2 linked regions of the Homo sapiens genome follow. The protein of the gene in region 1 purifies or fractionates together with the protein of each later gene. This does not show direct contact. Each region holds a gene or a part of one and is shown on either strand. Other genes may lie near its edges.

The links.
Region 2: the proteins of SGMS2 (region 1) and VCPIP1 purify together in Homo sapiens (co-immunoprecipitation; one large-scale study listed by IntAct). This does not show direct contact.

What each region holds. Positions count from the first base shown.
Region 1 is NC_000004.12:107,831,332-107,835,155, forward strand, and holds part of SGMS2 (phosphatidylcholine:ceramide cholinephosphotransferase 2), read left to right. Parts: intron 1-3,824. UniProt on the Homo sapiens protein: Sphingomyelin synthase that primarily contributes to sphingomyelin synthesis and homeostasis at the plasma membrane.
Region 2 is NC_000008.11:66,632,732-66,636,555, reverse strand, and holds part of VCPIP1 (deubiquitinating protein VCPIP1), read left to right. Parts: intron 1-1,183; coding exon 1,184-2,055; 3' UTR 2,056-3,824. UniProt on the Homo sapiens protein: Deubiquitinating enzyme involved in DNA repair and reassembly of the Golgi apparatus and the endoplasmic reticulum following mitosis. Necessary for VCP-mediated reassembly of Golgi stacks after mitosis.

The sequences.
Region 1 (3,824 bases):
AGGTGAACCCTGACAGGCTTAGGCCGGCTTGGACCTGAGTCACAGCACTGCCACTCATCACTAGATACCCTGGAGCAGCTTCCACAGGTGAACCTCCATTTCTTGGCTGTATAATGGGAGTAAAATAATATTTACCCCATAAGGTGACTATACGAATTACATGGCTCCCTGTGTATAAAACATTGAGAGTAATGCCTGCTTCATGGTAAATATTCAAGGGCTCAGCAATCATTATTTTCTGCATATAAGCTGCACTTCTAACTTTTAAAACAAAGAGTTCAGTCCCGTTGTGTCAAATGGAACCATTCTTTCTCGTTAAGGTGGCATGTATCTTTTGGAATGGTATATCCACATTCAAGTGTTACATCTTGGCTGTGCTAATAGGAGCTGGAGCCTGTCCCATATTTTTCCCTCCCCGTTTCCTTTGGGGTTAAAATAAAATGATTGAAGTTGGTTGTACACTGCCATTGAATTCAAGAACTTTCATAAGAAGTGTATAACATCAGCTGTGAATGCTGAAAAGCTTTTCAAGCCACAGTCACAATATGCCTGCCCTCTTAGCAGATGCTGGTAGCGGTAGTCTAGCACAACTGGTACTGTCCCTCACAGAGCTTAGGCTTCTGGGGAGTATTGTACCATGAACACCACTGTCCCAGAAAGTGCCCGGGCCACTAAGAATCACAAACCCTACTGTCCTCGCCAGTGCTGTGCGTCTTTCTTTAGGAGGCCCTGAGACAGTTTATTTAACACAGCTGCTACTGTCTTCTGATATTTGCATTTGTTCAGCGAGTTGTTGAACCACCCAGTTATTACTACCCCAGTAGTTGCTACCAAACTTTCATAGCAACAAAGGGTATTGTTTTGGTTAGTGTAATATACCAGTTCTTCTGCATGAATGTCATTGAATATATTTACGTATATATAAAATATATGCCATATGGTAAATTAGCTAGGGCTGAGAAGTTTGCTCCCTTGAAATATAGTTTCATTGGCAAGTTATAAGCAGCAAGCAGGAGCATTTAAAAGTTTATTTAACAAATACTTATATTCACTATGTGTCAGGGTTTGTTCTAAGTACTTAAAACTGTTACTCATTTACTCCTAAAATTCACTTTAAGGATCCTACTTGAAACACAGGGGGGTTAAGTCACGTACTTAAGGCCACACAGGTGGTAAATAGTTGAATTAGATTTTGAAAGCAGGCAGCTTGACTGCAGAGTCTAATCACTGCACTGTTGCTTGTGGAATCTAGCATGTTTCTCACAGTTTGGGCCCTATTTGTGTCTTTGTGTATGCAATTTTGCCAAAGAAAAAAATTGCACCTGTTCAAACATATGATCAACTCCTTGGTTTACCATGTGGAGGATTACAACTAGATTATATATTTCAATATTGCTATTGAAAGACATTGATAGACTGGGTACTGTGGCTCATGCCTGTAGTCCCAGCACTTTGGGAGGCCAAGGCGGGTGGATAGCTTGAGTCCAGGAGTTTGAGACCAGCCCAGGCAACATGATGCAACCCCTCCTCTACAAAAAACACAAAAATTAGCCAGGTGTAGTGGTGCACACCTGAAGTCCCAGCTATTTGGGAGGCAGATGTGGGAGGTTTGCTTTATCCTGGGAGGCTGAGGCTGCAGTGAGCCAAGATTGCACCACAGCACTCCAGCCTGGGCGACAGAGTGAGATCCTTTCTCAAAAAAGAAAAAAGACGTTGATACTAATTTTCACTATAGTGTTATCAAGCATTTCCCTGTAAAAGCTTCTGAGTGCATGGTCGACCCTGGTGATGATCCGGGAAGGAAGCATGCATTCTCCCATCCCCCACTCAGCACACTCAGCTGAGCAAGACTAGCAGCAATCTCAGGCCTCCTGTCCTAACAGCATTCTTTTTATTTTTTTAGCTTTAGGGTTTTCATTTGTTGTAAATTAAAATAGTTAAAAATCTTTATCGGAGGAGAGTAGCTTGTACACTTGAGGTTGCTTTGTTTTCTAATTACTGTTGGAGATGGTAGTAAGCAGAATAATGGCTCCCCAAAGATGTTCACATCCTAATTCCCAGAACCTATGAATCTGTTGTGTTACACAGCTTGAACATTCCTAGTCTGAAAATCCAAAATGCTCCAAAATCTGAAACTTTTTGAGTGCCAATGTGACACCATAAATGAAAAATTCCACACCTAACGTCACATGATGGGTCGTAGTTAAAACAGTCAAAACTTTGTTTCATGCACAAAATTATTTAGAACATACAAAATTACCTTCAATCTGCATATAAGATGTATATGAAAAGTAATGACAATATTCCAAAATTCAAAAAAAAATCCAAAAGACTTCTGGTCCCAAGCATTTCAGATAAGGGATTCTCACTCATCCTGCACGGAAGGGGGAATTCAGGTTGCAGATGGAGTTAAGGGTGCTGACCAGCTGATGTTGACATTAAGATTATCCTGGGTCATCTGGGTGAGCCCAGTGTAATCACAAGGACCTTCTGAGTGGAAAAGGGAAGCAGAAGAGTCACAGCAGGAGAGTTGACATTATTGGAAAAACTCAAACATCCATTGCTGGCTTTGAAAATGGAAGGAGGCCACAAGCCAAGGAATGCACACAGTCTCCAGAATCTGGAGGAGGCAAGGGAATGAGCTCTCCCGTGGAGCCTCCAGAAAGGAGCACAGTCCTCCTGACACTGTGATGTTTAGCTCAGAGAGATCCATTTTGGACTTCTGACCTCCAGAACTGTAGGAGAAAAAAATCTGTGTTCTTTTAAGCCTCTAACTTTGTGGTAGAGCAGCAGTAGAAACAAATACAGAGCAATCTGTGTTTTGATTTGTTCCTTATGCCAGTCCTAGCAGAGGGCTGCCTGATCTCATGATTTATTACAGACACATTAAGTATAGCAAGGTTTACATTTTGACGGCTGTTTTATTTTATATGTAAAATTAACCACTTTGTGGGAGGGAGAGTTAACTTTTGATAATTCTGTGTATTTCTATACCTAACAATTATTTAAAATGACAGTACCAAGGTTTCCAGGAAAAAAGTGTCTTAGTAATTCTGGAGCAGGTAGAGCCACTTGAATCTTTTTTGTCAGAGTTGCCTAACAGGAATGTGGCTCTGCATCCTATGTAGTTGTGTCATACCTTTGCATTTGTTTAGGGTGAAATGATAGTCCCAGCATGGTGATACTGGGATGGTGGAGATTATCACTTAATTTTTACTCCAGGTTCCTTTTCATTTTTAAAGATCTGGTATTTTCTCATTTGCCTAGCAATGTTATTATGAAATCCCAGAGAACAACAGCTGTAAACAAAAGGTGACATCATTCATTGGGTCATCTATTGTAAGTATGTAAAGGGCTATAGGCTCTTAGAGTAGACAATATCTCAGAATCACAGTGTCAACTTCTGAAATTAAAAGAACAAGAGGCTGGGCCCAGTTGCTCATGCCTGTAATCCCAGTGCTTTGGGAGGCCAAGGTGGGAGGATCACTTAAGGCCAGGAGTTTGAGACCAGTCTGGGCAACATAGCCAGGCCTCCATCCCTATCCCGTGCAAAATTAGCCAGGTGTAGTGGCACACACATGTAGTCCCAGCTACTCAGGAAGCTGAGGCAGGTGAATCTCTTGAGCCCAGGATTTAGAGGTTGCAGTGAGCTATGATCATGCCACTGTACTCCAGCCTGGGCAACAGACCCCATCTCTAAAAATAAAATGAATAAGAATTATAATAATAGATGGGGTTTTTTTTTTAAGGAACCCTGTGATAACAATCCTATATTCAGTTAAAGGTCTTCTCTTTGTACAATGTAGCAATAGCACTAGTGTAAG
Region 2 (3,824 bases), on another chromosome or scaffold:
GGCCAGGCTGGTCTCAAACTCCTGACCTCATGATCTGCCCACCTTGGCCTCCCAAAGTGCTGGGATTACAGGTGTGAGCCACTGTGCCGGGCCTATTTATCTAAATTTTAATAACTGCATATACTTCCAACAGGTAGATAGGAAATAATTTACTTATTTCTTGTTGAAAATTTAGATTTTTTTCCATTGTTTCATTGTAAGTAATACTGTGATGAACATGTGTGGAACTATGATTCTTTCTAGGGATAGCCAAGGAAAAGCATCTCAGTAGCAATCTGGAAACACCTGCAAAACCTTTTTTTTTTTTTTTTTTTTTTTTGAGATGGAGTCTTGCTTTGTCACCCAGGTTGGAGTATAGTGGTATAGCGGCGCCATCTTGGCTCACTGCAACCTCCGCCTCCTGGGTTCAAGCAATTCTCCTGCCTCAGCCTCCCCAGTAGCTGGGACTACAGGCTCACACACCACCATGCCCAGCTAATTTTTGTATTTTTAGTAGAGACTGGGTTTCAACATTTTGGCCAGGCTGGTCTTGAACTCCTGACCTCAAGTGATCCACCTGTCTGCCTCCCAAAGTGCTGGGATTATATGCATGAGCCACTGCACCTGGCCTCAAGCTCCATTCTTTTTTTTTTTTTTTTTTTTGAGATAGAGTTTCACTCTTATTGTCCAGGCTGGAGTGCAGTGCCGCAATCTCAGCTCACTGCAACCTCTGCCTCCCAGGTTCAAGTGAGTCTCCTGCCTCAGCCTCCCAAGTAGCTGGGATTACAGGCGCCTGCTGCCATGCCCAGCTAATTTTGTGTATTCTCAGTAGAGTTGGGGTTTCACCACGTTGGCCAGGCTGGTCTCGAGCTCCTGACCTCAGGTGATCCACCTGCCTTAGCCTCCCAAAGTGCTGGGTTTACATGTGTGAGCCACTGTGTGACCTCAAGCCCCATTCTTAACTTTGCTGTTAGTTAAGATAGCAAAAAAATTTTTTTAAAAAAGATTCTCTGGGGAGAACTACTTTAGGGTCTATGGCGGTGGTTCTTTTTTGTAATACAATAAATCTGAATGAATTTTGTTTTGAAAGCTGTTATCTGTAAATTGTTATTTAAAATTCATTATTTTAACTATAATTGTCTTGACTACACTTTTATTAATACCTTAAGATTTTAATATGTTAAATATCTTTTCCCCTTTTTAGGTATGGCTGATGGCAAGCATTGTACTTTTCCACATCTGCCTGGCAAAACCTTTGTCTATAATGCTTCTGAAGATAGACTGGAATTGTGTGTGGATGCTGCAGGACATTTCCCCATTGGTCCTGATGTTGAAGATTTAGTTAAAGAGGCTGTAAGTCAGGTTCGAGCAGAGGCTACTACAAGAAGTAGGGAATCAAGTCCCTCACATGGGCTATTAAAACTAGGTAGTGGTGGAGTAGTGAAAAAGAAATCTGAGCAACTTCATAACGTAACTGCCTTTCAGGGAAAAGGGCATTCTTTAGGAACTGCATCTGGTAACCCACACCTTGATCCAAGAGCTAGGGAAACTTCAGTTGTAAGAAAGCATAATACAGGGACAGACTTTAGTAATAGTTCCACTAAAACAGAGCCTTCTGTATTCACAGCTTCTTCTAGTAATAGTGAGCTTATTCGAATAGCTCCTGGAGTAGTAACAATGAGAGACGGCAGGCAGCTTGATCCTGATTTGGTTGAGGCCCAGCGAAAAAAATTGCAGGAAATGGTTTCTTCTATTCAGGCTTCAATGGACAGGCACCTTCGGGATCAAAGTACAGAGCAGTCACCATCTGATCTTCCTCAAAGGAAAACAGAAGTTGTGAGTTCTTCTGCAAAGTCTGGGAGTCTTCAGACTGGTTTGCCTGAATCTTTTCCTTTAACTGGTGGTACTGAAAATTTGAATACAGAAACAACTGATGGCTGTGTAGCAGATGCACTGGGAGCAGCCTTTGCCACAAGGTCAAAAGCACAAAGGGGAAATTCCGTGGAGGAGCTTGAAGAGATGGATAGTCAAGATGCTGAGATGACTAACACAACTGAGCCAATGGATCACTCTTGATTTAATTAGAGGCTAATAAAGGCAGAATGTTTATTGTGAATATGTAATATTTGTTGGCTGGGCCACGTAACTTGATTAGTCATTAAAAATCTTGTACGTATATAATTCAAAGATTATATCTTGTTATTCAGTGCATGATAGCAAGTGTGTGATTGGCCATAGCTTTTAATATACTGCTGCCCAGGCTGGCTCTGAATTTCTATAAATTAGCTGTTAGATCTGCTGAGATGACTTTCTTCCATATATGTGGTTCATTGGAAGTTCTTTGTAATTTTAATTCCATGAAAGTCTTAATGTTTCCAACATGAAAATTCTCTTACTTAAATACGTTTGATTTCTGAAAAGCCTACAAATGGAGGGGAAATGAGATTGTGCTAATGTTGATGTCATCAAGGTAACCATCTCATATACTAGTGTCAAAAGGTTTATGTAAACTTGAATTTTATCTGAACTAAATTGTATCTTAAAATTCATACAATTATTTATTAGACAGTGGAATGCAAATGTTTCTATGAACGTAAACACATTCATAGAGATTTCTTGGCGAAAATATCTTGAGAATAGAATGTAACGATATAACATTTTGCTGATTTGTGCAAGATTGGGGAAAAATTTCTTCTAGATTGATGAGGTCAATGTGATTCAGTTGTGTTGCTGTCTGAGCCACAGCCAATTGTGTGTGCTCTATTAATATGTTACCATTATTTTTGATTCCTGGCTTGGTCAAGAACAACCTGATTTTTTTTTTTTTAATCTTGCAGAAAAGTTGATTGCAAAGTGTGGTAGAAAAAGAAATAATGGTAGCAGTAGAGAATTTATAAATAAGAGTTTATCTTTATGAATGAGTTAATTGTTCTACAATTTTGATCAGTGGTATTTAAGCCTGTATATGCTAAGTGTATTTATGCCCCTTTGAGCCAAAATTTTTTTTTTTTTTTCAGAATCCATAAGAGTTTATTTGTTGGCTTCACTTGGGTTTAGATGCAAATTTTACTGCATCACACCCTGATCAGCTGGGTATTTGCTTAGTGTATTCATCAAATCTTCAGTGCCAGTTTCCTTGAGAAGCAGCTTTCATGCTTATTCCTTAAAAACAACAGAAGAGTGTTTATCCTGAGATTGGTATTGCACTATTTTATTTTATTCTGCAAATCTGTATCCTGAAGTGTACATTTCAACCCATATTCTTCTCTGTTCACTGAAATTAAGTTGAATTTGAATGGCTGAAAGACAAAATATATGTTAATACAATCTCTTACCTAGAGCATTCAAAGCCTGGCTGTCTCTGTTTGCACATGTAACAGATGCAGAACTGTGTTTGTAATTCTAAGAAAATGTATGTCAGAAAGTATTTTATCAGATGTTTAAAAATCTCTGCCTGTTGATTCATAAGGGATATAGACAGTACTTTAACTTGTGTTTCCAGATAAGGCAGATTTTGGTCATCTTTCTGTGAAAGTATCTCTAACTGAATCCACTTCTTAAACAAACTACTCTATTTTAAATAAGGAAAGAATGGAGAATCTAGACATTTTACAGGTGTATCTGAGCAAAATATATATTTGGGTTAGTTTTTATCACATTATCACGTTTGTCTTTATATTTTATCTTCATCCTAAATTTTCTCCCTATCAAAACAGCAGGAAATTTTTAAACTTTTATATTGTACACTATTTTTGCATAAAATAAGAGCTGTAGCTACCAAATACTATTTACTACTTAGTAAAGGTGGCTTCTGTGTATTAAACTACGAATTACAAATATCACTT